2 linked regions of the Homo sapiens genome follow. The protein of the gene in region 1 purifies or fractionates together with the protein of each later gene. This does not show direct contact. Each region holds a gene or a part of one and is shown on either strand. Other genes may lie near its edges. The genes, in order: LHX9 and ZHX1.

Region 1 (14,294 bases):
TCTTTCTTGGAAGGGATGGAAGGGGGGCCGAGAAGACACTGTTTCTCACACGTGTAGGGGTTAACTGGAAACTGGCTTCACCCACATTTTTTTGTTGTTGTTCAGTCCTAACCCAGCGCAGCCGTTTCTGCGCCTGATCTCAGCGGACGCAGTGCGGGACTTCTCCCTTTATTTCTGCAGAGCTGAGGGCAGGCGGCGCAACAAATCTCAGGTAAAAGAGCATCAGATTTCAGAAGAGCTGTATTCTAGACTTGGCGCAGGCCCCTTTGGGGAGAAGAGCCCAGGGGCTATAGAGAACAGAGGTTTGAAGGAAGCAAAAGCTGGCGAGAGGTTTTTTTTTTGTCGCGAAGGGTGAGGGTAGGCAGAGAACGCGCGAAAGGGCAGGGCCTTGGCCGGGAAGTACCGCCCAGCGAAAGGCTGGCAAGGGTGCGCAGCTGGAGCGTGGCCTCGGGTACCCCTTTCCAGGCAGCCGAACTCCCCGTATCCCAGCTCTGCTTGGCTGACTCCCATTTGTCTTGAGGGAGGATCCCCTAGTAGGACTGAATCAGAAGTGCGCCCGTGCAGCAGCCCCAGTATGGATCTGCCAACCTCAGTGTAGGGGGAAATTTTCCACATGGAGTATCTCAGTCTCCACTGTCTGGAGAAAGGCCCCAGCGTGTCCCGGCAATCCGCTCACCTTCCATCCAGCGCAGCCCGGGCATCCAGGGCCAGGTGGCGCGGCACTGAACGCATGGTTCCCAGCCTCAGGCTGACGCTGACGTTTCACTGGGCCTTGGGTGCTCAGGACAGTGCCAGACGCTGGATACTGTTTTAAGAGCCGCGCCTTTCAAACCGAAGGGGCTCCTTAACCAGCTTAACAGGGTCTGGAGGAAAGGTAACGCCTCCTTCTTAAAGGGCAAACTTAGAGGCGCAGAATCATGGCCTCCAAAATTCAGGTAGAGAGAGACCTTAAGTCACCTTTGCTCTCAAAATATGCACATTTGTTGGGTTACTTCTTCCCTCTCAACCCTAACTGTTCTGTGGGTTTAATTTCCCTTTCCTCCCCCCTAGGGAATTCTACTGGGCTCGGGTTCTTTGCCCATGTAGACCCACCTGAGCCGGCGACAAGGGCGCTGCAGTCTTTTTGACCTTCATAGAGATTCTAAGATCCCGAACTCTCAGTTCCAACTATTATGCTCCACTATAGTCCGGCCGTCCACTTTCCTAAAAGCGGCAACAGTAGCGGGATGGGTGCTGTCAGAATAGAAAGGAAAGAAAGCTTAGTGGACTGCGTGTGCTCAATTGTGAGGGAGAGCAGTGCTGGTCAAGGGACCTGCCCCATTATACCTGGTAGAACTTTGAATTTAGAGGAGACTTAAGATCTTATCCCCGACGCAGGCTAGAGAGAACCACATGCACCTGTCCCTCAGCTCAGGAACTGAAAAAATGAACACTGTAATTTTTATGGAACACTTGCGGGCCATTCAGACTACAGCTGGGAGAAGGGGGAACATTTTTTTTTTTGTCCCCAGCCACCGGGCCTCAGCCCCTCTGCTGGAGAGGTGAAAGAAAGCAGAGGTACAAAGATGCTTTCCTTATTTAAAGTGCTTATTTAAAGTCCTTTGAGAATGAGGAGCGGGGAGCTCTTAGGCAATCTTTCTTGGGGGCTCCAAGACAAAAAGAGTAGAAAACCCAGGGTCACACACCCAATTCGAGGGCATTCCTTCCCACCCTTCCTGGGCTTCCTCCTTAGGAACTGTGAGAGAAGGCAGGGCTGGACCCATGGGGACGTATTTCCGCAGAGCTAACAAGGACCTCCCAAACTCCAGCTGACCCCCACCCCACCCCCAGCTTTCTCCAGACTTCCTGCGTTCACTGAGAAGGAAGAATCCTGGCAGTTTGCTTCTTTACAGGAAGTAGCAAATGCCACTGGATGCAGGAACTTATAACCTGAGTTTTATAAGAGCAGGAATAGCTAGGATTCAACTTGGAAACTGATTGCAGAAGGTGTTCTGCCTTGCCTGTACCTAGATGATTAACAAACTTGTGTGGAATAGAAGAATGAATGGATGATTGGAGGGCTTACAAAACCTCTGTGTTTGGCTTCCCTGGAGACGCTGTAAAGTTCTGGCTTTTTCCTGGAGTTGTTTAACTTTCCCTGCATGCAGTCTCCAAAGTTTTATCTCTTGCAAGGAAGCAGTGGTATTCTTGGGTTCTTCATTGTTGATTTTGCTGAGCAGGGGCAATATGCAACAAGAACCAAACCTAATTTCAAACACCCCCATTTGGGGGTTGGGAGAGGTTTTAGCACAGAAACTAGACAAAGTAGGTTGAAGTCCTGTATTTACTTTTTGCTTGGAGCTTCCTTGGGTGAATTGACTGAGGGGACTTCTCAGAGACTCCTCCTCCTCCTCCTCTTTCTCCCTCTCCTCCTCCAGCTCTGAGCCAGTTTAGCCTCTGACTTGTGTGAAGGCAATCTGCCCTTTTGTGAGAGGACCTGCTGTCTCTGAAAGGACTGCTGCCCCCAGCCCCTCCTCAGGGCCCTTCTTGTGTGCACGTGGGTTTGAAAAGCTCATTGATTCCCATCCAAAGGGGCTAATTACATTACTTACAGTAAATAGCAGCCCTGCTGTCAGGTATAGCTGCCAAAGTAAGGAGGAGGGGGATGTCTCCAGCTTAGTTCACTTGATTGGCTTCATTTTTGTGTGAAATTGCGTTTTATGAGCTGCATTTTGGCACCCGGAGGACTTAAACTGCGTCCAGTCTGCAAATAACATTATTTTTGACCCTGAGAAAAAAGGAGGGGAAGCAGTAGTGTCTTCAGTTTCATGGAAGAGGTCACTCCAGGAGCCTCAGAAGACAACGCTTTGGGACAGGAAGTCAGGCTGCTGCACCAGGGGTCGTTTCCTCTCTCGCTTTATTTCTGCCTTCCTTCCTTCCCCTTCTTCTCATCCTCTCACTTCTTTTTTTCTTTCCTTCTTCCCTCTCTCCCTCTCTCCCTGGCTTTTCTCCCGTCATCTTTCTAGCTTTGGCCACAGTTCCCGGTCGGGCTCCCCCGGGCGGAGGGAAGCGGGTCTGCGGCCGGGCGGCTCTTGTGAGGTATCTAGGATGTGCCAGGACACAGGCACCGCAGTCCTGGGAAAGGCGGCGGGAAGTAGTGGGGAACGCAGGCTGACGAAGGGGACGGAAGGAACAGAGAGCGGCCGGCGCGTCCTCCTCTCTGGGTAAAGCCGCGTTGGTTCCTGCCGCAGCGCTGTGCTTCGGACTCCTAGGGGGCCTCTGGCCGTTTGAATGAATCGACAATATCAGAGTATTGTGGACACTTTTTAATGGGGCCGGGGAGGGGCCGCCGCTGCCGAGAACTGAGGGCGACAGAACAATCCCACCTCTTGTGAGGAGCAGGTCTGCCATTCTGCTTGTCAGTTCTCACCTTCCCCTCCTCCACGGCAAAGAGTCCCTTTCACACCCTTCTGAGTGTGCGGGTGCGCCCAGTTTTACAAGTCCTCTGTCCTGCCAGGGTAGTGGGAGAAGCACGCGATGGGGCTAGCGCCCAGTCCTGCGGGGGCAGGCGCCAAGCTCCCGGGAGTCCGCAAGTCGCTTCCTATATTGGCAAGCTTCAAATGAGACATTAGAATCTCCGGCAACCTTCCTTCAAACCTGAACCGGGGAAGAGAATAAGCCGCCCTATGGCCAAGGCGCAATTGCGTACCCGTGTGTACAGGTCCATGCCCTGTCCCCTACACTCTAATTTTCTCAAAGAAAATTGTTTTGCCAAAAGTAACCCTGAGAAATGCAGACGCTCCAAACGCCCTCTCCACTTCGGATGAAGCCAGCATCTAGTAGGGTCTCCGGCCCTCAAGAAGGTGAGGCAAAGAGATGAATTGTCAGACAGCTGCTTTTAAAAGTGGATTGAGGAAGATGGGATGGGGAGGAGAGGAACCAGCATTATCTCCACCTCAGTAAATTGCTTACATTTCTGCTCAATATTTATGCATTTCGGGTGACAGTCCTGCAGGCTGGGGATGAAAAAGTCCACAAGGAGGAAATCCAAAGTTTGAAGTTGATATTCTCTGTGTCCTGAGCCAAGGTCTGATCTTGAACTCGGATCAAATAGGCGGGTTCTAGGCCTTCTGCAACAGGGCGGGGACAACAAGAGCTCCTTTTCCCCTTTAAAACATGACTGCTGGGAACTCTTGGAAGGATGTGTGTGTGTGTGTGTGTGTGTGTGCGCGCGCGCGCGCGTGTGTGTGTTTTGTGGGGAGGTAAATGCCCCCTCCTCCTGCCTCCCCGCTCTCTATCCCCCCACCCCTTTGTAATGTTTGTCCTGCTTGCCCATCACCAGGGGGTTGAGAGGAGTATGACAGGTCTTTGTTGTCTGAATAAAAATCCGTGGCAGCTCCGGGGAGAGAACTCCTCCTACTAAATTATCAAAAATGGGCTGGCTTTAGTCTCTTAACAAATTGGACACAGCTCAGGCAGGAGCAGTCCCCAACCCAATCTACAGGCACTGGGAACTTGCAAGCAGCCAGGGAACGCTGAAAATAGCACGTCTTTTTCTTTCTTTGTGTTCAAAACTATTTTCTTTCTTCACCAGATTTTGTTTTCCTCCCCCCGCTGCAGTTGTTTCCCATTAGTAACTCGATCTCTCAGAGCAGTAAGATTCGCCTTCTACGCCTCTTTTTCCCTCCGCCCGAATTGTTTGTTTTCTGCACATCTCCTTCAGGGAGCCGCTGAGGCTTCCCCCCAACTCTTCCCAGTTCTTTTTGCTTCCCCTCGGCCCCCCAAGCAGACCGATTTCCACTCCATCTGTTTCTTCTCCTCCTTTCTCTCCCTCTTTCCCTCCATCCTCGAGCGTCTCTGCGCTCCTACAGGGCAGCCCTCTCTGGTCCCTTGCCTCCTTCACTCGGATGAGCTGAAAGCCCCGGGCGTGTGTATATGGAAATAGTGGGGTGCCGAGCAGAAGACAACTCGTGTCCTTTCCGCCCCCCAGCCATGCTCTTTCACGGGATCTCCGGAGGCCACATCCAAGGCATCATGGAGGAGATGGAGCGCAGATCCAAGACTGAGGCCCGTCTGGCCAAAGGCGCCCAGCTCAACGGCCGCGACGCGGTAAGGAAGGGCTCCGCCGCGGCGGTAGCCGGGCACCCCTGCGCCCTCTGTTAAACCAAGCCGACTCCCTGGCCGGTGGAGAACCGGAGCGGCGGGTCGTAGAGACGTCCGCTTGAGGGTGGCGGGTGAGTTTTCTCCCGTCCACCTATGCCTACAGGGCTAAGAAACGGTCGTTTTTCTGAATCGAAATGTCTGCAGCTGGCTATCCTCCGTCGCAGCTGATTCCGAAAGAGCAGGGAGAGGAACTGGGAGGAGGTGGGATGGGGGGTGGTGGCATTCTCTTCTACAGACCTCAAGGTTCCCTTGATTCCGGGGCAGGCGTCTCCCCGGCGAGGATCCGCAGCTCCGAGGGCAAGCTGGGCATAAGCAATAGGAGGACGGCGCGCTGCCGAGGCGTCCGAGCCAAGCAGGAGCCCAGGTGGCCTTAGTCTCTGGGCCTGATGACCGGACCTGTGGAGTAGATTCCGACGCGACTGGGTCATTTCCAGTTCTCTAGACGCTCGGGGCTTGGGACCCCTAACCGAGAGAATCTCAGGGTTTCTGGCATCCCGACTCAGTCCCTCTAAGGAGACAGCACTACGTTTAGCGCCAGGACCCGGCGGGTGTCATGTGTAGGGGGAAATCAAATAAAACATACGGAGGAGCGCGGCACCCAGTCGAAACGCATGAACTTTATAACCAACCCTTAAACAAGCTAATCAACCACCACTGTTTCTACTATCCATAATAATAAAGTCATGTCCTCTTAATAAAGAAAACTAATTACTTATCTAAGCGCTTCCCTTTCCAGATTACTAACGGGGGGGGGGGGGGACTACAGAAGTCTCCGGAAATTATTTCGGCCAAACATAGCTGTGTAGATCCTTTGGTACCACAGTAGGACTTGTAGCCCAAACTAATCAGGAGACTGCTCTAGCCCTTATCAGCTGGGTTTTGGGTCCGGCCAAGTAGCCCAACTGGTGAACGTGTCTATATTTGTAACACTCATTCAGTGCCGGGGCCCCTGGTCGGAGTAAAGGGCTAAACTTTACTTTTTCAGGCCCGCTGAAGTTTCGTGGGGAAGATCAACCCATTTCTGCTAGTCGTGAGGGAAATGTCCGGAGGTTAACTCCTTTTCCCTTTTTCTGGTCATCACTTTTAAAAACAAATAGTAGCAACCCAAACCCAAATTTTGCAGCGGGGCTGGGCTCCTCAAGGTGGGGCCACTGGGGCATCCCGAGTCGGGTCAGTGGGACCCAGAGGGAAGCATAACTTGGGCACTAAACAGATTTTCAAGACAAAGGTCTCAGTACGCCTGTTGATGCTAGGGAAAGAGGGGACTGTATACAGCGGGCTGGACAGCGGACCCTCTTTGGGAACAGCCACTTTACACATTTATTGGGAACGGCACCAATAGCCCTGAAAATTAGGGAACAGCAGGGGCTGCCAAATATATCTCAATCAAAACAAAGTCGACCAAATTATGAGCAGAGGTCCAATAATCTCCCCTTTGCTTTTGATTTCAATGCTGCTTATAAGAATTTAGAGAAATCGAACTGTAATATTTTTTGTTTAAAAATAACCTGTGCTCGTTGAAATTTCCTTTTCACTCCCTTATCATTTCCGTTGTTTTATTTTGTGTGCGTCGAAAACCACAATTTTTAGCTTGTAATTATTTGAATTCGGAAACGATCACCAAACTGTAGTCAATATTTTCCTAGTCCTTTTTAAGCGAGGCTCCGGATGGCTGGGATGTCTTTAGGTTAGTAGTCCCGGGAGGACGCGAACGCCGGTTCAGGCAGACACGGAAGAAAGCAAGCGGGCCGCAAAGAGAGAAATCACAAATGTTTCCCCTGACTTTTGCCTTTGTGCAGTGGACCCTGGCCCCTGCCGCTCTCCCTGCACACCCTGGGCTTGGTCTGCCTGGGGGAGAACCCCGCGTCGTGCGGCTACACCGCGCGCCCTCCTCAGCCTTGCGGTGTGCTTTCTTTGCAGGGCATGCCCCCGCTCAGCCCGGAGAAGCCCGCCCTGTGCGCCGGCTGCGGGGGCAAGATCTCGGACAGGTACTATCTGCTGGCTGTGGACAAACAGTGGCATCTGAGATGCCTGAAGTGCTGTGAATGTAAGCTGGCCCTCGAGTCCGAGCTCACCTGCTTTGCCAAGGACGGTAGCATTTACTGCAAGGAGGATTACTACAGGTACTCCCCTACACCCCCACTTCCTACGCCCGAGTACACCTGGAGGGGCCATCTGCCTGAGCCCGGAATCCCCTCTCCGTCCCCTACCTTTTGCCCCATTCCGGGTGCTGTTATCATTTCGGAGACCAGGCAAACCCACTGCATATGCCTTCAAGCTGTAATCTCCCTGACCGACGGTGAGGGTGGGTGGGAGGGACATTAAAAATCTAGAGCTTTATCAGCGAATACCACGCACTCCCATCACTTCTCAGCTTGGCTGGCGGAACTTGGGGAAATCTGGGGAAGAGTAAATGGACGTGGTCTCCGTCTACCGAGACTTGATTGGGTGTTTGTTTTCCGCTTGCTACGAATTGGGCAAGTTCTGCGCCTTGAAACTGAACTAGTGGCTCGGGCAGCAGCAACAGAGTGTTAGGTTTTCGTAGGTGGCAGGAGACTCTGTAAATGACTATGAAAAGGAATAAATGCCATTGCCAAAACCCAAGCCACTCAGTTCCGGGTTCCTTTTATCGCTAGTTACAACCATGCCCCCCAGATTGGAGAAAATCAGCAGCAGGCGTCTTTATTGATTCTTCTCAGTTATGTTTCTGGATTGGGAAAGACAGGACTAAGTGCAGGTGACCTAGTTCCGCTCTCAGCCCAAGCAAGATAAGTTGTTAAAAAAATAATAACCTTTCCTTTACAAAATCGTCATCTTCCAGGACTGTGTCCGCATGCTTTCCCACACCCGCGCACATCCAGGAATAATTATATCTTCTTTCATTCATATGTTTTGTAATTGATTAAGTGTTTTCACTTGGCATGGCAATTTAATATTCTAGTACCGTGAGTTAGCTAGTGCTAACTAGTGGTTTGCTTTTTTAAATTTTTTTTAATGTTTTAAATTTTCACTTTGCAGAGAAGAAAACTAAGGCTTAGTTGCCCGATTCTTCTGACTTTAATGTAAAGATCCTTTGTCTTGGTTTATCAGAAAAGGTCGATGAGCAAATAAAATTAATGCCTACTCTCCTGTCCCCCTGGAACCCTCCCAGGTCCCAGTCTCAGGCCACTGCAGACCAAACCCAGGTGTCGCGGGTGGGATATGGCTCTGCCTTGCTTCAACTAGCGCCCTGACTCAACTCTTTCCTTCCAGAAGGTTCTCTGTGCAGAGATGTGCCCGCTGCCACCTTGGCATTTCCGCCTCGGAGATGGTCATGCGCGCCCGAGACTCTGTCTACCACCTGAGCTGCTTCACCTGCTCCACTTGCAACAAGACTCTGACCACGGGCGACCATTTCGGCATGAAGGACAGCCTGGTGTACTGCCGCGCCCACTTCGAGACCCTCTTGCAAGGAGAGTATCCACCGCAGCTGAGCTACACGGAGCTGGCGGCCAAGAGCGGCGGCCTGGCCCTGCCTTACTTCAACGGTACGGGCACCGTGCAGAAAGGGCGGCCCCGGAAGCGGAAGAGCCCAGCGCTGGGAGTGGACATCGTCAATTACAACTCAGGTGTGCCTCCTATCCTCACCCCCGGCGCAGCCCCGGCCTCCCTGAGGAAAATTCGTAGAGCTCCTTCCCCGTCCAAAGTCTTGCTGCAAGAGTGTGTTTTGCCCAATGCCTCTGTTCTCACTGCAACTCCCTCTCACTCTGAAGGAAGGGAGAGAGGGAGGAGGAGGGGGGAAGGGAGGGAGAGGCAGCACTTTATTTAGGTTGTGGCAAAAAACACATTCATAACTATGGGGCTGTAGTGACTTTCCCCAAACAGGCAGAGCCAAATCCTTGTTGCCCATTAGTTAATGAGCCCATTAGTTTCTGGCTCTCAGTTGGAGCAAAACAGCCCCAGGGCAATTTCTTTGTGGAGGCCAAATTATAGATCCTGTAGGAGGTTTCCTAAATACTGAAGAAAAAAAAAAAAGTCTACAGAGCCCAACCCTAGTCTGTCTAGAGGGGTCAGAGGCTGTGGTCACCAGCCCAAAGTTAATCAGGAACACAGTTGGCAAGAGTGTTGAAAAACCTAATCCCTGATCTTGGCAAAAAGCAGTTGTAGGGGTGGGAATCACTCTCCACAGCTGAGCTAGCCTGTGTCTTTCCTAAGCCAGGATATTCAACCAGCCGTCTCATTCCCGGTGTGATAGACCATCCAGACATCCAGACCCCTGGAACTGAAAGTACCTCCAGGTCAGGCCTCCTGAAGAGGCTTAGTGGTATCTCAGGCCATTCATCTATACTCAACCACCTTCTCTCTTCATTAAAAACAACATGCAGACAACAAGTCAAGAACACATTCTTCCTTGCTTTGGGGGACACGCCTATCATGTATCAATCTCTCACATGCAGCAGTTTCCCATTGTTGGTAGCCTGCCCCCACTCCCCATCCTCCAGGTGAGGATGGTGATCGGCTCTGCAGATGATAATCTAACTCTGAGCAGAACAGAAGCTATTCTTGTGAGTCCCAATCACTGGAAAAAAAGAGGTTGTAGAAAGCCCTGGCGCACTTTTGGGGAGCCTAAGGACCTTAACTGCTTTGGCTTTCAGTGCCCTGGCCCACATGTGGCTGAGAATCTCAGCAGACTCAGGACAGGGGAGACCATTCTGTTGGAAGGAACCTTGAGGACCTTATTATGGCAACCCCACTCTATTACTATGAATGCCCCCAGATACCAAGCATGGGCATCTCAGAGCATGGGATCTTGCCTGTTTTTCTCTTCCAGTTCCCAGGGCCTGGTATGGTGCCTGACATTGCTAGTCAATGGTAAAGAACAGTGTCCAGCCAGTTAAGTGATTTGCCCAAGATCACACAGCCAGTGTGAATGTGAAGCTAAGAGTCCTGCTCTGAGTTTAGAGTTTTCAGGGGAACCCACACAGGATGAGTGGCCGCTCTCTCAGACCTCCGTTGGGCTCTCTCCTGGGGTTCTCTACCGACTGATCTAACTGAAGAGGAGAATCCTTTATGGGCAAGCACAGCGGGTGGCCTTGCAGGGAGAATGGGGAGCAATGAGGAACACTGTGCGGCAGCACTTGTCCCTAGGGGGTTCATACCAGGGCTGCTGGACGAAAAGAAAAGGACCTGCCGGCTCACTGCAAATCTCACCAGGGTCGGTCAATCTGTGTGAGGGCAGCGGGCGAAGCCCCGGGTTTTGGCAACCCTCAGTAGTGGCCATGCCCTCACACTGGCCCCTGCTGTGCTGGGGCAGGAGATTTGGTTAGGGGCCACTTTGCCCAGCATGCTTACTTCATCTTCTTTGATGCGTGGTCCCCGGGGCAGGGCAGGCAGGGCACTAATTGTTCTTTATTAATAGAAGGTGACATTGGAATCTCAAGCCACTCACCAAGGCCCTAATTCCCAGAGAGAGAGAGAGAGAGAGAGAGAGAAAGCAAGCCACTCATACATAAACTAGTGAGTTTTTTTTTGAAAGAAAGGATCTCTCAGCCCGGATAAAGTCCAGAAGGGTGAAGATTTCTAGCCAAATAGTAGGCAAGCCTGACTTTTTGATTGTTTATTTAATCTAATTTGCTAAATTTGATTTCGCCTTGGATCTTCATGTTAGATCCAAGGAGCTTTAAGAACAGTAGAATTTAGATTCTTTTACTTCTCTGAAAATAACTAGAGAGTACAAATTTATTTTTAAGAAGAATAAAAGAATCCTTCTGAGCCACTTAGGTCTTTAGTTTGCAGATTAATGCTGCTACAAGTTGTTGTGGAGAAGGTCGCTTTTGTCTTGGTCCCAAAGGAGGGAAAAATTGCTTAGGCCCCCTTAGCCCGAAGAGTTTGTACCTCGCACCACTACAAACTGGATGCCTCTTAGTTAACATCTACTCCATCCTTTCTGGACTTTTCCCAGAGATACTATTCAATAGTATATATATTTTAAAGATCAGGTTAAAATTATCTATGGGAATTGGTTTGAAGATGCCTGACCAGAAATCAGGCCATCATTTAAAACAGTGCTTGCGAATCTGATGCCACTTTGTTCCAAAACTAGGGAAAGAAACCCTTCAGCAAATTAAACACGCGTTAAAATGTAAAAAAATAAAATAAATCCAGTTTTAACTCGTTATTTTAGCCTTCTTTGGATTTTGTCTTGCTATCTTTCATTAAATGTAAACATTAAATGTAAACAAGTCTCATAAAGGGTAAGGTTGATACTAAACTAAGTATAATTTACACAATATGTTTTCAAAATGTGCAGAAAACATGTTTGTGATTCAAAGAATCTCAGAGAAGATGTGAAACTTGGCAAAGGCCAGCTAGTGCTTGATAGGGCAAATGCCTTTTAATGAGAATGTCCCTAGTTTTGTTTATACCTCTGTGCAAATTAATCAGGCAAATATTTTAGAAAGAGACATGGAAAGTTTACCTGAAATGCTAGCTTGAAATAAAGCCCTCTAGGGATGAGAAGAAGATTTAGTTTAGGATAGGAAGCTCTTATTTGTGTAATTTAAACATTAATTGAGAGATTAAACTTTTGCCACTTCTCAAAATATCCTTTCCTTAAGCCCTTTCTTCCTATCCAAACTTTTAAGGCTCCTGGTGGTTAAATTAGCCTGGCACTGACCCCTAGTGGTCTTCCAGGGATCACTTCATTCTCAGAAGGTTACATACCTTCACAGCGACACTCACTTTAGGATGGGTGCCCATCGCATAAGTGACTGGAAATAAAATACTTAGATCTTCTCATTAACTTATAATACTGGATGTGAACTGACAGGTAGATATTTAAGACAGTTTTAAGAGTTATCATTTCATCTCATAATTCGGGGAGTGGGGGAATCCCCTACAGCTTTAGCAATAGGCCTTGGAGAAACAGTCATTTGCAAGTTTATATAATGCATGTGTAGTTAAACATAAATAATATCAGATAATGCACTGTTACTCTGTAGAAGAAATAGCTTTCTCTATTAAGTTGCATAATATGAGATAACAGTCACAGGAAAATCATATATAGTAATATCTGTTTAATAAAGACCCAACGAGCTATCTCCTTACATATTGGATTGTGTATTTTATGTGGAAACAGGGCCTATAACTGTATTTTACACACTAAAAGGCTCTGCTGAGTTTTTAATCAGCAATAATGGATATAGAATGCGTTTTAAGGGAAGCCATTTCATTAAATCTTACTACAATTATTTTTCATAAATTTCATTTTAAGAACTAATGATTATATAGTCAGGTTGGGAATCATATTCATTTCTATATATTACCTTGGTGTGGAGTGGGGGAAAGATGGCCAAGGGCATTATTTAAACACCAAGTCCTCTGTCCCAAGTGTGAAATTCAATTTGATGTATTGTTCAGGAAAGGTTACATGTTACATATGATAGGAAAGAAATCTGAGTTGAAGAACCCTCCGATGACTAACATGTGCCCCTTTGACTATTTTTTGTGGGTATATTTATAATCTGGTTATGAAATATGGCTGAGTTTACTGGAGATAAGTATAGTTTTATAGTAGGTCATAGAGATGCTGTTTCATCCATTTGAGGATATGAAAGTGCAATTCTGTAGAATATTTGAACTTGACATATCCCCACTGGGCCAAAATAGGATAAAATGTAATGCATACTCTTTCTGTTATCTCTGGACATATGGTAGCCTTTCTGGTGGAGTTTAGGAAGCCTATGTTTTACATTCGAATGTATATATCTGACTTGGATTCCACTTCAAGTTGATTTAATTTCGCATTAATACTCACTTGTAATTTACTGATGAACAAAGGGCCCAACATCTTGATTGAATGCTTCTTGAGCTCCTACCCCTGTGTTTGACTCAGGGAATCAATTCAAAGTTGAATATGGTATAGTCAGTTCCCTCAATGAACTCACCTGTTCTTTTGCCAAGTGTGTCCTCCTACTTATGCGTCTTATGGAAATACAAACAAAGGAGACATTTGTTTGTGTCTAGTCTTTTTACATTAGGAAGAATTTCTTGTTAAGTGAGTTTTATATGTGGCTGCCTTCTTGGGTGATGACTACAAAACTTCTGTATTTCTGTAAATATGCTGATTTGCTGAATATTTTTTAAAAAGTAATTCTAAACAGAGCCTAGCAGGCAGATAACATTGTATTAAGCAGAACATTTTATTAAGCAGATTGGAAGAGCTCACATTAAGGGATGCCTCCCTTTTTTAAGATTCAGGTTTCTTTCTCCCTGGAATGACATGATCAGGTTGGTTTTAGATTTTCTATTATAAAGCAGTACAAGGCAGGATGATCAGATCTAAATTTATATAACTATCTGAAGGAAGAATTTAAAGAAAAAAAATTACCATGCTCTTTAATTTGTGAAGTTGGCTGAAGTTGGTTGTGTAAATATTTCACAAAATGTTTTCATTTTACAATTGTATTTCCTATGCAGAGCCAGTAGATTCTTGGAAATGACCCTTTAAAAGTGTAGCTTTACATCCTGGGGATAATGACTTTCTGGCTGGTTTCAAAGACTGGGTTGTTTTGCCCTTGGTGCTAAGAAAGTCTTTGTAAGGGAAGAGAAAATGCCGCCCTCTCTCTGCCAGGCCAGCCAGGGGCACAGCTCACATCCCACTCACACACATCTGGAGCAAAAGGGACTAAGATCTGAGCCTAGAAATAAGCACCATCAGTATCTCTCAACTGTGAGCTGTGGGGAGCGCTTCAGGCGTGAACCGTGTGAAGGGAAGTCTGGGCTCATTCTCTTTCAGAAATATTTATTAAAATCACTCCAGGGGAAAAATATTTTCTTTCTGGTATAGCCCTGTGTTAACCAGTCATAGCTAAAAGCTGAAACAAATAATATTCTTATGTTTACATAAGAAATTCACAAATTTTGAATTTCTAACTTCTCCTCCTTTTTCAGCCTTTTCTAACTTTTTCCTGACTGACGGAGCTCTAGGAATATGAGAAAAGGCTAACCCTTAGAATTGACCTAGATGCTTCCTTAGTTGGTGGGCTCTCAGAAACTTTCAGACTTGAGGGAGTAGTAATACTTGTTTCTCTACGTCTCATGACAAAAAGCAATACCTTCAGACAGTGTGTCTCATTCCAGAAATATAGACAAAAGGTAGAGTCTTAAAACAC
Region 2 (15,707 bases), on another chromosome or scaffold:
TTCGGGGGGGTAGAGCTGGGGTGCAGATTTTTTTTTTTTCTTTGAATAGACCAATAAAAAATAGATGTTTTCAGAAAACACCAGGTGATTCTATTGTCTAGCTGAAAACCATTGCCTTTGGCAATGTGGAAACAAAATGCTATTTGATTAAACATAAGATAAACTCGCCATAATATAAAAAGCCTTCAAAAAGTAGCCAGTATGACCACCCTTTTCATAGACTCGGAACTTTAAAAAATTACAAACCACAGAGAGTCAGTAAGTAGTTACTGAATATTCTTAGGGACTGAAAGACATTCGGAAATGCAGAACTGTGGATAAGCCCAGGAAAGAACAGGCTGAGATACTACTTGCATTTTGTAGTTTATAATGATTACTGTTTTCCTCCTACTATGGGCTGAATTGTGACTCCCTCAGAATTCATATGTTAAAGCCCTAACTCCCAGCGCCTTAGAACGTGACCAAGGTTGGACACAGGGTCTTTGCAGAGGTCATTTAAAATGACGTCAGGAGGGTAGATCCTAATCCTGTGTACTGGTGTCCTTATAAGGAGAGCAAATTTGAACACCAACATATACAGAGGGAAGATGATGTGGAGACGCAGGGAGAAGATGGCCATCTGCAAGTCAAGGAGACAGGCATGGAAAAGATCCTTCCCTGATAGCCCTCAGAAGAAACCCCAACCCTGGCTAGGCGCAGTGGCTCACCCCTGTATTCCCAGAACTTTGGGAGGCCGAGGCGCGCAGATCACAAGGTCAGGAGATTGAGACCATTCTGGCTAACACGGTGAAACCCCGTCTCTACTAAAAATACAAAAATTAGCCAGGCATAGTGGCGGGCGCCTGTGGTCCCAGCTACTTGGGAGGCTGAGGCAGGAGAATGGTGTGAACCTGGGAGGCGGAGCTTGCAGTAAGCCGAGATTGCGCCACTGCACTCCAGCCTGGGTGACAGAGCCGGACTTTGTCGCAAAAAAAAAAAAAAAAAGAAATGTACAGAGAGGAGATGGATTTTATAAGGTCCTTGAAATTGAGTCCTTTCACTATTTGATGGAAAGGTAAACTCAAATTGTAGAGAAGGCGACATATGTCCAGGAGATGTAAAGCGTTGTCTTTGCTGGCTCACAGCCATCTTCTGAAGGAACCGTCGTTGCTTACAGCCTCTGCTGCCCAAGTAAAACTGCTCTTTCCCCACAAGACTGGCTTCCCCTCCTAACCTGGCAGATTGCACTAAGCTGACCTTTTAAGAAGAAATGTGCTGGACCAATCAGGTTCTCTCTTTAGATTTGGGAATTGGGGCATTAACTCTAATGAACAGAGCTCAACAGTCATGTTGGACTCCTTGGCTGAGGCTACTTAGCCAGGCCATGTTCTCGAGGAGACTTAAAAGGAGTCAAGAGGCCAGGCGCGGTGGCTCATGACTGTAATCCCAGCACTTTGGGAGGCCGAGGTGGATGGATCACATGAGGTCGGGAGTTCGAGACCAGCCTGACCAACATGGAGAAACCCCATCTCTACTAAGAATACAAAATTAGCAGGGCATGGTGGCCCATGCCTGTAATCCCAGCTACTGAGGAGGCTGAGGCAGGAGAATCGCTTGAACCTGGGAGGCGGACGTTGCCGTGAGCCGAGATTGCGCCACTGCATTCCAGCCTGGGCAAAAAGAGTGAAACTCTGTCTCAAAAAAAAAAAAAATTTTAAAAAAGGGAGTCAAGAGAGGAGACGATGGAGTAGACCTGCAGGGTCAAAGAGTAGCTTTCGTTCCTGGATTGAGCTAGCTTAAGAGAGTTTCGGTACCTCACAACCAGAACTATGTTGACTGAACAGTATGAAATCAAGAGTAAGAAAATCAGGGCTAACGTCCTTCCCTGAGGAGCCACATAAATCAGCCTGGTCTCTCTTCCATGCAAATTCATAAGACTTTCAGGCTGGAAAGACCATAGAGAGCATCATCAGGCTGATATTTTCTGGGAAGTTAAGGTAACTTTTCATCAACTATTAACCCTTTGATATAGGACACAACAATTGTAATGTTATCTTCATTTTACAGATGAGTGAAAACATAGACAGGTTAAGAAACCTGCCTTCAGTCACATAGTGTGGTAACTCAATGACAGAAATGGCCACAATTATTTGCCGTTCCTGTAGCCTCATCCTTTGCAATGTGACTTTGCAGCTGCTTTCAAGAGGTGGGATCAAGCGGAAAATGGCAGTGCACGCCTGTAGTCCTAGCTACACGGGAGGTTGAGGCAGTAGGATGCCTTGAGCCCAGGAGTTCAAGGCTGCAGTGAGCTATGATTGTGCCACTGCACTTCAACCTGGGCAACAGCAAGACCCTGTCTCTCTCTCTAAAAAAAAAAAGGAGGTGGAATCAGGGCTGGCTCTGTGATTGGCTTTGGCCAGCAAAATGTGGCAGAAATGACAGTTATGTCAGCTCTGAGCCTAGGCTTCAAGAGATCTTAAAGGCTGCTTCTGGCTTTCTTGGAACACTGTGGCTGCTTGTGAATGAGTCCAGGCTATTCTACTGGAAGATGAGACAAAGTGGCCCAGTTCCTGCTGTGATCAACAGCCAGCCATCCACTGAATGTGTGGCTGAAGCTGTCCTGCATAAGCCAGCCCCTGGATATATGAATGCAGCTGTCCGAGACCAGGCAGCCCCCAGACAGCCCACCTGCTGACCACAGATGCCTGAGCAAGTCCAGCCGAGATCAGCCAAACCTGCTCCAGTTCAGAACTACCCAGATTAGCAGACTCAACCAGCTGACCCACAGACCTCTGAGGTAACTAATTGCTTCATTTTTTAAGCCACTAAATTGTGGTGGGTTTGTACTTCTTGATACCGTTAGCAAGTGGCAGAGAATCTGGGATTTGACAGTGACCATCTGACTTCAATGACAGTGAATGCTCTCAAATCCAGTGCACACTGTAGCTTGGCTAATGCAATGCCTTCTTTCTTAGAAGCAGTGTATGTAACATCTTTATTAGGATTTAGGACTGGTCAGGATGGATTCAAAATCCAGCTTACTTATCCTGGGTAGGTTAATCTCTCCAAACTTTAGCTTCCTCATATGTTAACTGCAAACAATACCCACAATCTCACAGAGATACTAGGAGGGTATAATGGGATAACATATCTAAAGTGCTCAGAGTTTAATGAGCTGTGACCTTTCCTAGAATATGGAAAGTCTGCAATGGGTCCGAAAGTTCTTATTGACTGAAGGCATTTCCTTCCCAGTGTTGATGTCCATGTAACTGACAATTTTAGGAATGGTATTTCTTTTCAGAGTTTTTGTAGCTTGTAACCCTTAGTTATTTCTACAAGAAATTTTTCCTTAATTATAAGCGTTTGTTTAGACGAGTATTTCTCAAAGTCTGCAGCTGCATGTCAAATGCAGATTCATGGCCTCGTCCCAGACCCACTGAATTAGACTCTTCCAGGAGTGGGGTCTGAGAATCTATTTTTAAAGAAAGTTCTCCATAATTTTCATGAACATTAAAGTTTAAGGACTGCTACTTAGACTTCTCTGCAAAGACTGAAACACAGTGAATTATTGCATTTTCTCACTCTAGCATTGCTTTCTAGTGGAGGAGTGTTCCCTAGGGTTATTTGTATGCTACATTTTTATGTTAAAAAATAGATACTGCCACTTTTTCCTTAGAAGTCATGCTGATACAGCCACTAAGGTTTTTTTGGTTGTTTGTTTGTTTGAGACAGAGTCTTGCTCTGTCACCCAGGCTGGAGTGCAGTGGTGCGCTCTTGGCTCACTGCGGCCTCTGCCTCCCAGGTTCAAGCGATTCTCCTGCCTCAGCCTCCTGAGTAGCTGGGACTATAGGCACATGCCACCACGCTCGGCTAATTTTTGTATTTTTAGTACAGACAGGGTTTCACCATGTTGGCCAGGATGGTCTCGATCTCCTGACCTTGTGATCCACCTGCCTCAGCCTCCCAAAGTGCTGGGATTACAGGCGTGAGGCACCCTGCCTGGCCAAGACACTAAGTTTTGGTGGATATAGAGTTACACACCAATGAATGAATCAACCCAGATGACACTATGATTAAAATATAAAGTGTATCAATGTGTTACTCTTTGAATGAATACTGGAAAATCAGTTTTCCTCTCTGTTTTTCTTGTTTTGCATCTATAGTCCTGTAGTACTATATATGGTCCTATGCTAGAAGTAGAGGGAAAGAGTGGAGTGGGAAGGAATTTTACAAGTACCAAGAATATTGACTTGTTTTTACTGTTGTTATTACCAATAACATTATTATTTTCACAGAGCAAGCACTAAGAGAAACAGGAAATGGCTTGACCCCTAAACTGTCTTAGAAAGTTTATTCAGCCTGAACTAGTTTTAGTAGGAACATTTTTGTTCACCTTCTAATGTAGCCATTACAGAAAATAGTGGGAGCACTTCACTAGGGCTAAATTCTTAAGTTCACCTAACTGTAGTCAAAAGTTTAAAGTGTCTTAGTTTGATGTCTTTTTGGCTGGTCTATTTCATGGTATCATGTTTTTAAAAAGACTTTTTCACAAAAAGTGGAAAAAGGAAAAATAATAACAGAAGGGAACTACTACAAAAAGTGCTGTTGGAAGCCTATTCCTCTTCAGATGACACCAGAGCTTAGAACTTTTTATCCAAAGCTCTTCATTTCCTACCAATATTTTTTTTTCACTGTTCCAAAGGTGGAAGAGGCTCTGAATAGCAAAAGTGCTGTGCTTTTTAAAACCTGCTGAACAACTTCTATCTCTAAGAGTACTGAAGTTTTGCCATACCAGTTTGAGTATGACAAACTGCAAAACATATGCATAAAAAAAATCTAGACTTCTAATTGTGCCAATCCATGGTTAAAAAAAAAAACTCCTGGAGCCACGCAGCTGTTAAAATCCATCATATTTACAATTTTTATAAATGAATTTATTTTAATAAAAACAAGTTACTCTGTGAGCCTGATCTCTAAGCAGATTTATGTGGGCTGGCACAATCTGCTATGCTAAACATATATTCATATTGCTTAAGTCTGCAACCAGTTTTTTTTTTTGAGTGGTGATGATAACAGTCTTGCTTTGTAGAAGGATACCAAGTAATTGGCAGCAATTCAGCTAAGGACATTGTTCTCAGCACTGTGTTTTCTTGGACAGAATTGCCCTGTGGGCATGACCCTAAACTGGGAGAATTCTGGATGGCTGGCATTGGGCAGTGAACCAGGGAGACAGCTTATAGGGAGGAGGAGGTGACTCTATAAACTAGTGCTAAAGTAGAAGAGGAGAAGGAAGAATAAAGTGAGGGAGGAAGTGGGGGTAAAATGTGAAGTTACAGTCAACAGCTCCACATCCCTAAAGGGGTCTCTTCTCATCTTTCACTTGACACATCTTTATGCTCCTGTTTTTTGCTTGGCTACTTGATTGTAAGTTCCTGGAAGACAGGAAAGTTGACTAACTCAGCTGTACATCTCCCACAGTGCCTGGCATATACTGGCACACACAAAACCTAGTCATCGGCCGGGTGTGGTGGCTCACACCTGTAATGCCAGAACTTTGGGAGGCCAAGGAGGGCGGATCACGAGGTTAGGAGTTCGCAACCAGCCTGACCAACATGGTGAAACCCCGTTTGTACTAAAAATACAAAAATTAGCCGGGTGTGGTGGCACGCGCCTGTAATCCCACCTACTCAAGAGGCTGAGGCAGAAGAATGACTTGAACCCAGGAGGCAGAGGTTGCAGTGAGCCGAAATCGCACCATTTCACTCCAGCCTGGGCAACAGAGCGAGACTCCGTCTCAAAAACAACAACAACAACAACAACAAAAGAAAACTTGTCATTAACTGTGTAGACAAAAGAATGAATTTCTCTATTTGAAGCATTTCCAGACCTCTTCCTCGGTCTAAAGAGGTTCCCAGCGAGGGCAGTACTGCCCCTCAGGGGCATACTGAAATTTTGCCGGGACAGTTTTTGTTTTGCATTCTATTGGTGGCAGAGTATTTACATTGTGAAAACTCTGTTATTTTAAAATTTTTCTTGATATTAGTACATACAGTATTTTATTATGAACTACTTTCTCCTTTTTCACCTTTATTAGAACATTACATTGGTTTCTTGAAATTATTTGTAGAGATAGTTTGCATTAGGAATTTAACTCCAGAAGAGTAAAGCAGTGTTATATTTTTTGTTGTAAATACAGGGCATTGAATGTGGCAGGGTTGAATACCTTTGCTTATAAAATTAAGCCTTATCCTACACAAGTTTTAGGATTCCAGGATGAAACCTACAAATAAAAAGAATATTGTAGAACACTGATTTCAACGATCAGATTCCACGGCCAGGCGCGGTGGCTCACTCCTGTAATCCCAATACTTTGGGAGGCCGAGGCTGGCGGATCACTTGAGTTCAGGGGTTCAAGACCAGCCTGGCCAACATGGCGAAACCCTGTCTCTACCAAAAATACAAAAATTACCCCGGCGTTAGGTGACGGGCCCCTGTAATCCCAACTACTCGGGAGGCTGAGGCAGGAGAATCGCTTGAACCCGGGAGGCAGAGGTTGCAGTGAGCAGAGATCGCGCCATTTCACTTCAGCCTAAGCGACAACGCGAGACTCCGTCTCAAAAAAAAAAAAAAAATCAGACTTCCACTTGAAGCAATTGCATCTTTTAGGATTAATGTGGCTCAGCGGAGCTCTGCTGTGCTTTTAGGATTACTGTGGCTCAGCGGAGCTCTGCACAAAGGGTCCGCGACTGGGATGGGGGTGGGGAGTGAACGTCAAGGGGCCCAGGAGCGCTCGAGCGTCCAAGGCCCGGCGTGTGGAGCAGCTGGAGGGTGAGTCGCCGCTCTCCGCTTTGGTTCTGTTCCTCCACGTTCTGACCGCGGTGCGGGGGAAAGGGAAAGTGAGTAGGGAGGGGCGGAGACGCCGGGCAGTGTTCCCGAAACCCCTGGCCCTCGCTGGCCCCGCTGCGGGGCTGGTTCCCTGAAAGCCGACGGGATGTGAAGCCCTCGACTCGGACAGAAGCCTCTGGAAGAGCGAGTGGCGGTTCGCAGGGAGGAGGGCGGCTGAGGGGCAGAGGGCGGCTCCGCCTTGCCCGGCGGTTCTGAGTGCAGCTGAACTGAACTTTCGGTGTCAGCGGGTGGAGCTGCGGCCCGCGGAGGAGCGGGGTCCGAAGCGAGGAGAGGTGGAGCTGCCGCTGACAAGGGGCGCGGCGACTTCTGTCAGGGCGCTGGGCTCCCGGCCGGACTCGCAGCAGCCCCCCGAGGGGCGGGGCCTGGGTCGTGTCGCCCCAGGGGATGGGCGTGTGATGACAAGGGGCGTTTCAGTAGAAGCCAGCATGCTTACCTCTCACGATCCAGCAGTGACATTAGGAAGGCGGAGCGCAAGGAAGGCGGGGCTGCCTTCTGTGCTGACCCGAGAGAAGACCAGGCTTCAGTCCACAGCGGGCGGAGCGGTCGCAGGCAAAGGGCGGGGCCATTTCGAGCCCTGGGAAGGCGGGGCGTCTCCTGACAGGGGGCGGAGCTTCCGCAGTCTGGGGCGGGGCTTCTGTTGACAGGGGGGCGGGGCGCCTCCCTACCTCCCGCGGTGCGCCAATCCCCGGACTAGGGGCCGGGGTCGGACCCCAGTGGAGTAGCAGGGTCTGGGCGTGGAGAGCTCGGCGCCGCACGGGGTGGGGGCGCGCGGAGGACGCGCGCGCGGGAGGGCCCCGCCTTGGCCGGCTCTCTCCCTTCCCCCTCCGCCCCCGGACGGCCGCTGGGGCGCGCGCCTCTCCTCGCACCCCCACCCTGAGTCCCCACACTCCGCGGGGCCACCGAGCTGCTGAGGCCCCTTTGCGGGCCCGCCGAGCGGTTCCGGGTTTAGGGTTCACAGGTCAGAGTTGACTCCCTGAAAAGTGCAGCCGGTTTGAAATGCAAGATGGCGGCGGCGTGGCGCTGAGAGGCGCGGCGGCCCCTGCAGGTAGTGGCGCGAGCCGGCTCCGCGACCAGCGGGCCCGGAGACTCTGGGCTGCGGGTGGGAACTGGAGCGCAGAGTCCGCGGCCGGCACGGGAAAGGCGAGTAGCGCGGGGCCTGGCGGGAGGAGGGCAGCCTCACAGCAGAGACCCCTGGGGCTGAGCCCGCTCGCGGCGGCGGGTGGCGGGGTGGACCCGGCGTGGGGCGTCCGAGGGGGAGGGACGGGGCCTGCCTCGCGGCTGGGTAGTCGCCGCAGAGGGACAGACAGACCCACAGCCTCCCTCGCTCTTTTTGGGTGTCTCCGCCACCGAAAGAGCTTGGGGGCGGGGGGCTCTCTGGAGGGAACATCTCAGCCCCCTGCCTTGGTGAGGACCCAGCAACTTAGGATTGTTGAGAGGAGTGAAGACTGCGTATTCCCAGCGGAGGGCGCCGCCGGAGGGAGCACCCCAGTAATGTTGGGAGTCCTAGAGGAGGTCAGGAGCGCTGTCCTCCGGGGGCGTGTGGCTGCCTCGTGGGGGACCCAGTCTCCCTGAGAGTAAGGAGAGATTCTCTTGCTGGAGCTGAGCGCACTGACTGAGGTTGGAGCCCCAGCAAACCCTTCAGGAGAAGTCTTTACCTCCAGTTCAAGGAAGGCTATGCGCACCCGTTTCGGGGCCAGGCCATGTCCCAACTTTGGGAAAGACTGGGAGTTGAGTCCTTAAGAACCATATTACGATTGTGACGAAGCCCTGGGATTTAGGGAGAAGTTAATTAAAGAGGATGGTAGGGGCGTGGGGGTGTGGGGGCTGACCCATGGGAATCCTCCAAGCCTTAGGGCCCACAGTGAACAATCTACTAATACCTCAAGGGGTATAAAAGGCTGGGAAGGAGAGGTGTGAGAGGAACAAGGTCTAAGGGCAGGAAAGAAGAGCCCTGGCAGATCCCCTTTCCTTATATATTTACACCAAAGTTGGAGGTAAAGGGACTTGGCAATTCTTTGTTTTAGTACCTTTCCTGTCCTCTCTCCTCCGTGGGTAACTGTAAGGAAAGAGCATAGCCCCTGAGAAGGAAAAGATTCCATTTGATATCCTTAGCTTAGGTTAGTGAAGGATCCAGCAGCTGGGAAGGCGTCAATGAGAGACAGCAGGCGGGGGAATTAGAACAGAGACTAGGGATGAGAAAAGAGGAATACAGGGAAGATATCGGACAGAGCAGGAATTCCACAGCCCTTTTCTGTCAACTCAGCCCAGCTATTAGAAAAAAAAAAAAATGCGAAGAGCTAATATTTGAGAGAAAAATGTAAAGGCTGAGAGAGAAGTCGTGATGTGATTAGGTTGGGATTCCATGTAACTTAAGCAGTTCTCTTGGAGGTTAATGTGATAGCAGAAAAAGGAAAATCACAAAATTGGAAAATATACAGCGGTTCACGGTTAGGGAGGAAGAAGCAGTCTCCCCCCAGGAACAGTGAATATTTGGTTTGGGGTGTGTGTGTGTGTTGTGTGTATACATATATAAGAGCACTTTAGATTTGCTGGTGTTGGTCATTGTTTCTCAGTCTTTGTCTGAAAGCTTTAATTTGTGTTATATGGTGCTACATTAATTATCTTCGTTTCTGAAAAATTATTCTGAAAAAGTCATTTGTTTTTATGTCGGGAGCGAAGGTGAGCAGGAGTTGGTTTTAACAGGGAAATTGGCCCTAGTATACCCATCGATTATTTTAATTTCTAAAGTAGCAATTCTGACTCCTGATTTTAAGCAAAAGAAATGTGAGTGCTGCCAATGACAATAATGCGGTAACAGGACATAAAAGAAAAAGGGCTTTCATGAATATTTTTTTCCTTTTAGCTTTTCTCTCCTTTCCCAAAGCATGTTAAGGCTAAGCAGACTAATTTTATACAAAGTAAAATGTATAATCGTGGACCTTTTCGATATAAAATGATAGCATTTCAGTTATCAATGAATCTTTTTTGTTGAAGTACCTCTTCAGACGCCTTATTTGACAATCAGGATTAAAATGAGAAAGGGTAATACTTGGGTAACTGATGATAGTGATGATTCATAGAGATTTCTTGAACCATTCTTGTATTTTCGAAAGAGCTTTAACGTCTTCAATGGAAATGTTTTAAAGATACAGTTCAAATAGAAACTAGTTTAGAACTTTACATTTGGAACATTTTATGCACGTGTGCTGTTCTTTGGTTTCCTCAATGTTCATGTAGCTCTGGTTTTATATTCAATTCTGAACAGATTAGGCTGGGTGAACCAGAGAGGCATTAATGCCAGATGGTTTGAAAATATGCTAAATCCGAAAACATAAATGTGCCTGTGCTAGTGAACACTCATTAGTGGATTTCTTTCCTTTATAGCTAAGCTTATTATTTCACCGGATTTGGGGGGTAGTTCATGCATGATGTAGCAATTATTTCACCTTTAATGATAATTGTAAGTTCTTTTTTTTTCAATAATTGGGGACAAAGTTTTACAGTTATTAGCGAAATTAATAGCATAGGAGAGGTGGTTCATTTTGAAGATTTTTCTCCCTTTTGTATTATTATATTTTATATTAAGATGGAAAGGTTATATTATGATGTATTATATTTCTTATGCTAATTAAGCATAAAATGTGATATTTGAGACTTAGTTTGCTGTAAATTATAACTTAATACTTAAATGAAAATGCTTTTAAAATTATTAAAATGATCACAAATGTAGCTGAGGAAATAACCCTTTTATTTGTGTTGCAGCATTGTGGATTTGGGCCCAAAGACTTTACTTAAATAAACAGTGTTGAAAGTTCAGCACCTAGTTTTTAATCTAATATCATAGTCAGTGCAATTATTCAGAGAGATTTTTGGAATTATCTATTGTACTGTTTATGGTGCTAGCCAGTAATACACATTTTTTAAATCATTATAAATATTTATTTATGTTGTGATAAGCACATTTACTGTTAAGACTAAATTTTTTGAACTTAAAATCCTTTTAAATAATCCTACGTAGTTTCAAAAGTAAGTTATAGTTCTGTTTTTAAAACTGATACTATCTTTAGAATAAGAGCCAATGTTTCTATACTATTATTGATAAATTTTATTGTATCCTTGTTGCTCTGATATATTTGTAGTCATCAATAACCAGATTTGCATGACTAAAGTTGCTGACTTAGATTATTAATCAGAATATACATTTGAGTTTACATTTTGGAGATCTGCATTTTATACAGGATATTCTTAAAGTAAATATTAATATGTAACTTTGTATGTAGTTGCCAGGTTTTGATCTTAAAAGATACTTAATCTTGGCATTTTATACAATCAGTTTCCAACTTAAGAGGTAAGACTGTATACCTTTGGTCTAAACAAATGTGATGATATACTTTGTAAAATAAGTATATATGAGCAGTTTAAGAATTATGTTTATTCAAGGGAGCCAGTTGAATACATTTTTTTTTTTTTTTTTTTGAGACGGGGTCTCATTCTGTGGCCCAGGCTGGAGTGCAGTGGCATGATCATGGCTCACTGCACCCTCAAACTCCTGTGCTCAAGCGATCCTTTCTCCTCAGCCTCTTGAGTAGCTAGGACTACAGTCATGTGTCACCCACGCCCGGCTAATTTTTAATTTTTTTTTTTGTAGAGATAGGGTCTTACTGTGTTGCCCTAGCTGGTCTCAAACTCCTGGCCTCAAGCAATCCTTCTGCCTTGGCCTCCCAACATGCTGGGATTACAGGTGTGAGCCACTGCACTCAGCCAAATAAATCATTTTTAATGCAAGATTTTAATTTTCAGTTCTTAGTTTTAGATTTTAAAAAATATTATCAGAATTTATCTTAACAAAATTAAAATATCGAAGTCATAGCCATATCATATATTATTGTAAATAAAATAACTCTTTCATTAAATTTTGGTGATTTCCTATTTCTCAAGATTTCTAACTTCCTTTTTCCCCTTCTTAAAAGTCTTTTCCTTTTTTGTTTTTTAGTGAGAAATGAAAGAAGATAGGAGGTTCTGATATTTCTAAGCACTAAACTAATAATTATATTTTTCTTCTAAGTTTATTCTCTTTTACCATCAATATTCTTAAAAAGAAGTTTGTTAAAATTTTGCTAGACATGGGCTATACTTGGGAGTGGGGAAGATCATGAGAACAATTTCTCCTCGTTACTATGATAAAATTACTTATATCAGATGTTTGCTAGTTCTATGAAATACCCCTTAAATATGTCATACAGTAATGATTTATTTTGAAGCTAAGGTCAGAAAAAGTTTGTGGGGGGAGAGGTTAAATTTGATTGATTAGTATCTGCCTTTTGAAGCCAACTTGTTCCAGCATGATTTAATATGCTCAGAGGTATGAAATGGCAAATAAATTTTGTTGGTTGGTTGTTACCCAGATTCTTAAAGTATTTTATCACTTGTCAACAGTTAGCAAATTTTAAAGAAAGATTTCTTTGCTAACATTCATTGTGTTCTAAGTACCAAGGAATATTCCAGAAACTTTACACGTGTTACCTATTCCAATCCTCACAACAACCCTATTAAGTAAATAGTATCCTATTAATATTACCAGTCCCATTTATAGATGATGGGGCTGAGGCACAGATAGGCTAAGCCATTTTTCTAAAGTCACACAGCTAGTAAGTGGCATGCTGTATTTGAACCCAGTCTGTTCCAAATTCCAAGCTCTCAGTCTTTTTTTGTAATCCATCTACTACCAGAACAGCTTGTTCTGTTTTATTATATAATGTACATAGCTGAGATGAGCTCTTTAATTTTTGGAATTCACTCATACTAAATTAAGAAAAATACTTTGAATTAGATAGAAATGTTCTAAAGTAATCCCAGTATCAGGAACTTAAATAACATCAGGCAACTAGGATTTTCATTCAAAAGCACTGATGAGCTCATTTTTGCTCCTCTGGTATCCTGGTGCCTTTACATGTCTTGGCAGCTCTTCTCAAGAGACTCATTCGGTAAAATATCTTGCAATTACTGTGTGATTTTAAGAATGGATTGAAGTAGGTTACCAGATTCCTAAAGTATTAATAATTCATTTTGGAAAATAACCTTCCCTCTTTGGCAGCTGTTTCCTATCTTCTCTTCTAGTCCACATCCTGTAGATTGATGGCTAACGAGTGGCGGAACAAGGAGATACCAGGAAATGAAACTGTAGAGTCCCAGGCTACAGAGATAATAAGATGCTCCACTGGGCCTACCAGGAAAATGCTCTTTTGCTTTTCATGAAAATAGTGTACTTATTCAGCCTAAGTTTTAACCTAACCTAGAGGTATTTTACTAAAGGACTGGTGTATTTACATTATTTCTTGATGTGAGAAGTTTCTTCATAAACTTGTATGTAATAGTAGCAGGAATAAAAAAATAAGGTTAATTGGGAAAATACTCTTCCTTAATATTTATTCATTATAGTTTACAGAGAATAGTGCTTAAAGAATACAACAAAAGGCCGGTTAGGGATCATGCCTGTAATCCCAGCACTTTGGGAGGCCAAGGCGGGCAGATCACTTGAGCTCAGGAGATAGAGACCATCCTGGCCAACATGGTGAAACCCTGTCTCTACTAAAAATACAAAAATTAGTTGGGTGTGGTGGCGTGTGCCTGTAATCCCAGCTACTCGGGAGGCTGAGGCAGGAGAATCGCTTGAACCAGGGAGTCGGAGATTGCAGTGATTCGATATTGCGCCACTGCACTCCAGCTGGGCGACACAGTGAGACTCCATCTCAAAAAAAAAAGAATACAACCAAAATGCTTTAACCCTTCAAAAGTGTTATTTATGACTGTTCTAGTAAGAAAAGCAATTGTAGCTTTATTAAACTTTTCTGATGGGTTTAACTGATCTAGATTATATACAACAACATATTTGGACAGTAATTGAATTTTCAGAGAATTATTTTCTGTTTATTTGATTGCATGATGTTAATACTTCACAGTGCACTGATTGTAAAGCCATTTGGTAGTAGCTTTCAGGCAAAAACGACATGGCTAAACACCAGTCATTTTGTTAGATAACCCCATGTTTGTAGATCAAGTACTACTAGTTTGTTTAACTTGTTTTGGCTTGTGTTGTCAGCATTAATAATCCTCTCCATTCTGATTAACATAATAAATTAGGATACAAATATCACTAGGTTTATGTACTAACACATAAACATATACAACTACTCCCATTTCTTAGTTTAACTAAATTGTCTTCATAACCTTTGTATACTTATTTATTTATTTATTTATTTAGAGTCAGAGTTTCGCTCTTGTTGCCCAGACTGGGGTGCAATGGCGCAATCTCGGCTCACTGCAACCTCTGCCTCCCCGGTTCAAGCGATTCTCCTGCCTCAGCTTCCCGAGTAGCTGGGATTACAGGCATGCGCCACCACGCCCAGCTAATTTTGTATTTTTAGTAGAGACGGGGTTTCTCCTTGTTGGTCAGACTGGTCTCAAACTCCCAACCTCAGGTGATCCGCCGGCCTTGGCCTCCCGAAGTGCTGGGATTACAGGTGTGAGCCACCGCGCCCGGCCGGTATACTCATTTTAAAGAACTCCCAATTTCTGCATCTCAATTTTCACACTAGAGACGGCATATATTCACGTTTTGAAATTTTATTCAAAATGGTCTAATAGTTATTTAGTTGTTCTATATGATATAAATAGAGTTTTTTTAATGTGTAGTTTTTGTGTTTACTACCAATATTAGGATTGGTATTTAAATGGTTCTTTTAAAGTTTTGATGAGGGAATAAACTTTTTTTTTCAAAATTACATTTATTTATTAAAAGCTAAGGCATTAAATTGTAAAAATTTCCTGACTAAGGCTAAATTATATCTAGAATAATAAAATATGACTTTTTTGTAGGAGAAGACAGACTGCTGCTTTGGACCTGTTGGTAATGATGGCCTGAGCTAAACATCTAACTAGAAGGGATACCCTTCCATTTCAAAGAACAGAATGCTAAGGAAGCTGTGGCAAGTATGTGTTTCATTGTTTTGGTATGGTAAAACTCAGATACTGAATGTACTCACTTTAGATCCCATGATACTATATTTGTCTAAAGTTTTTAAAAGCTTTCCTTAAAAAGCAGCAGACATATGCTTAACACTTTTTTTTAATATACTTTCAAATTTTAAGAGCTATAAGTATAGGACTGCTTTAATTTAAAAGGAGACGGCATCATACTTCATAATAAATCTTGTATATTTATAATTGATTTTAAAATTAGTATTTGATAAAATCTGCTGTGTCAGGCACTATACCAAGTGCTGTGATAACAGAGGTAAACAAGACAAAATGTACCTTTGGTATGGGGAAATTGATCTAGAAATTTTGCTATGCTTTTGCCTATATCCAGAAAAATGCTTCAGGATGTACAAGAACAAATTCTGAAACTGTATTTTCAAAACGTAGGCTACTAATAATAGTTAATTATAAGAGTCAGGATATTAATTAAATACTCTTACTTATATTAACCATACCAAAACTTAAATATTTGAATATTGATCCTTTTGTAGTTCTTAAGTGTGATGATTGGGTTTTCATGCTTATGTGTGAAATGTGCCTTTCTCAAACCTTGTTATGACACTGGCACATTACCTGTGTGACGTAAAAAATATATATATATTTGAATGTATTTGTACATAATTGTTTTTATATTTTATCTGATTAATTAATTGGCTTTTATAAGAAGCATTTGTCCTATTGTTATTTTAGATGATTCCAGAAAATACTAGGAAAGATTTGATAAACATTAATGTGGCAGTTTTCATTTTTAAAAAATGGATAACAGAGTTCTTATAAGTTGATAT

What was found.
Region 2: the proteins of LHX9 (region 1) and ZHX1 purify together in Homo sapiens (affinity purification with mass spectrometry; 3 studies listed by BioGRID and IntAct, with this or other methods). This does not show direct contact.

What each region holds. Positions count from the first base shown.
Region 1 is NC_000001.11:197,912,910-197,927,203, forward strand, and holds the start of LHX9 (LIM/homeobox protein Lhx9), read left to right. Parts: upstream 1-4,462; 5' UTR 4,463-4,914; coding exon 4,915-5,088; intron 5,089-7,062; coding exon 7,063-7,265; intron 7,266-8,394; coding exon 8,395-8,750; intron 8,751-14,294. UniProt on the Homo sapiens protein: Involved in gonadal development.
Region 2 is NC_000008.11:123,266,440-123,282,146, reverse strand, and holds the start of ZHX1 (zinc fingers and homeoboxes protein 1), read left to right. Parts: upstream 1-7,860; 5' UTR 7,861-7,930; exon of another isoform or gene 7,931-8,025; intron 8,026-14,760; 5' UTR 14,761-14,853; coding exon of another isoform or gene 14,854-14,874; intron 14,875-15,401; exon of another isoform or gene 15,402-15,505; intron 15,506-15,707. Other genes in the region: ZHX1-C8orf76 (zinc fingers and homeoboxes protein 1), read left to right, coding at 14,854-14,874. UniProt on the Homo sapiens protein: Acts as a transcriptional repressor. Increases DNMT3B-mediated repressive transcriptional activity when DNMT3B is tethered to DNA. May link molecule between DNMT3B and other co-repressor proteins.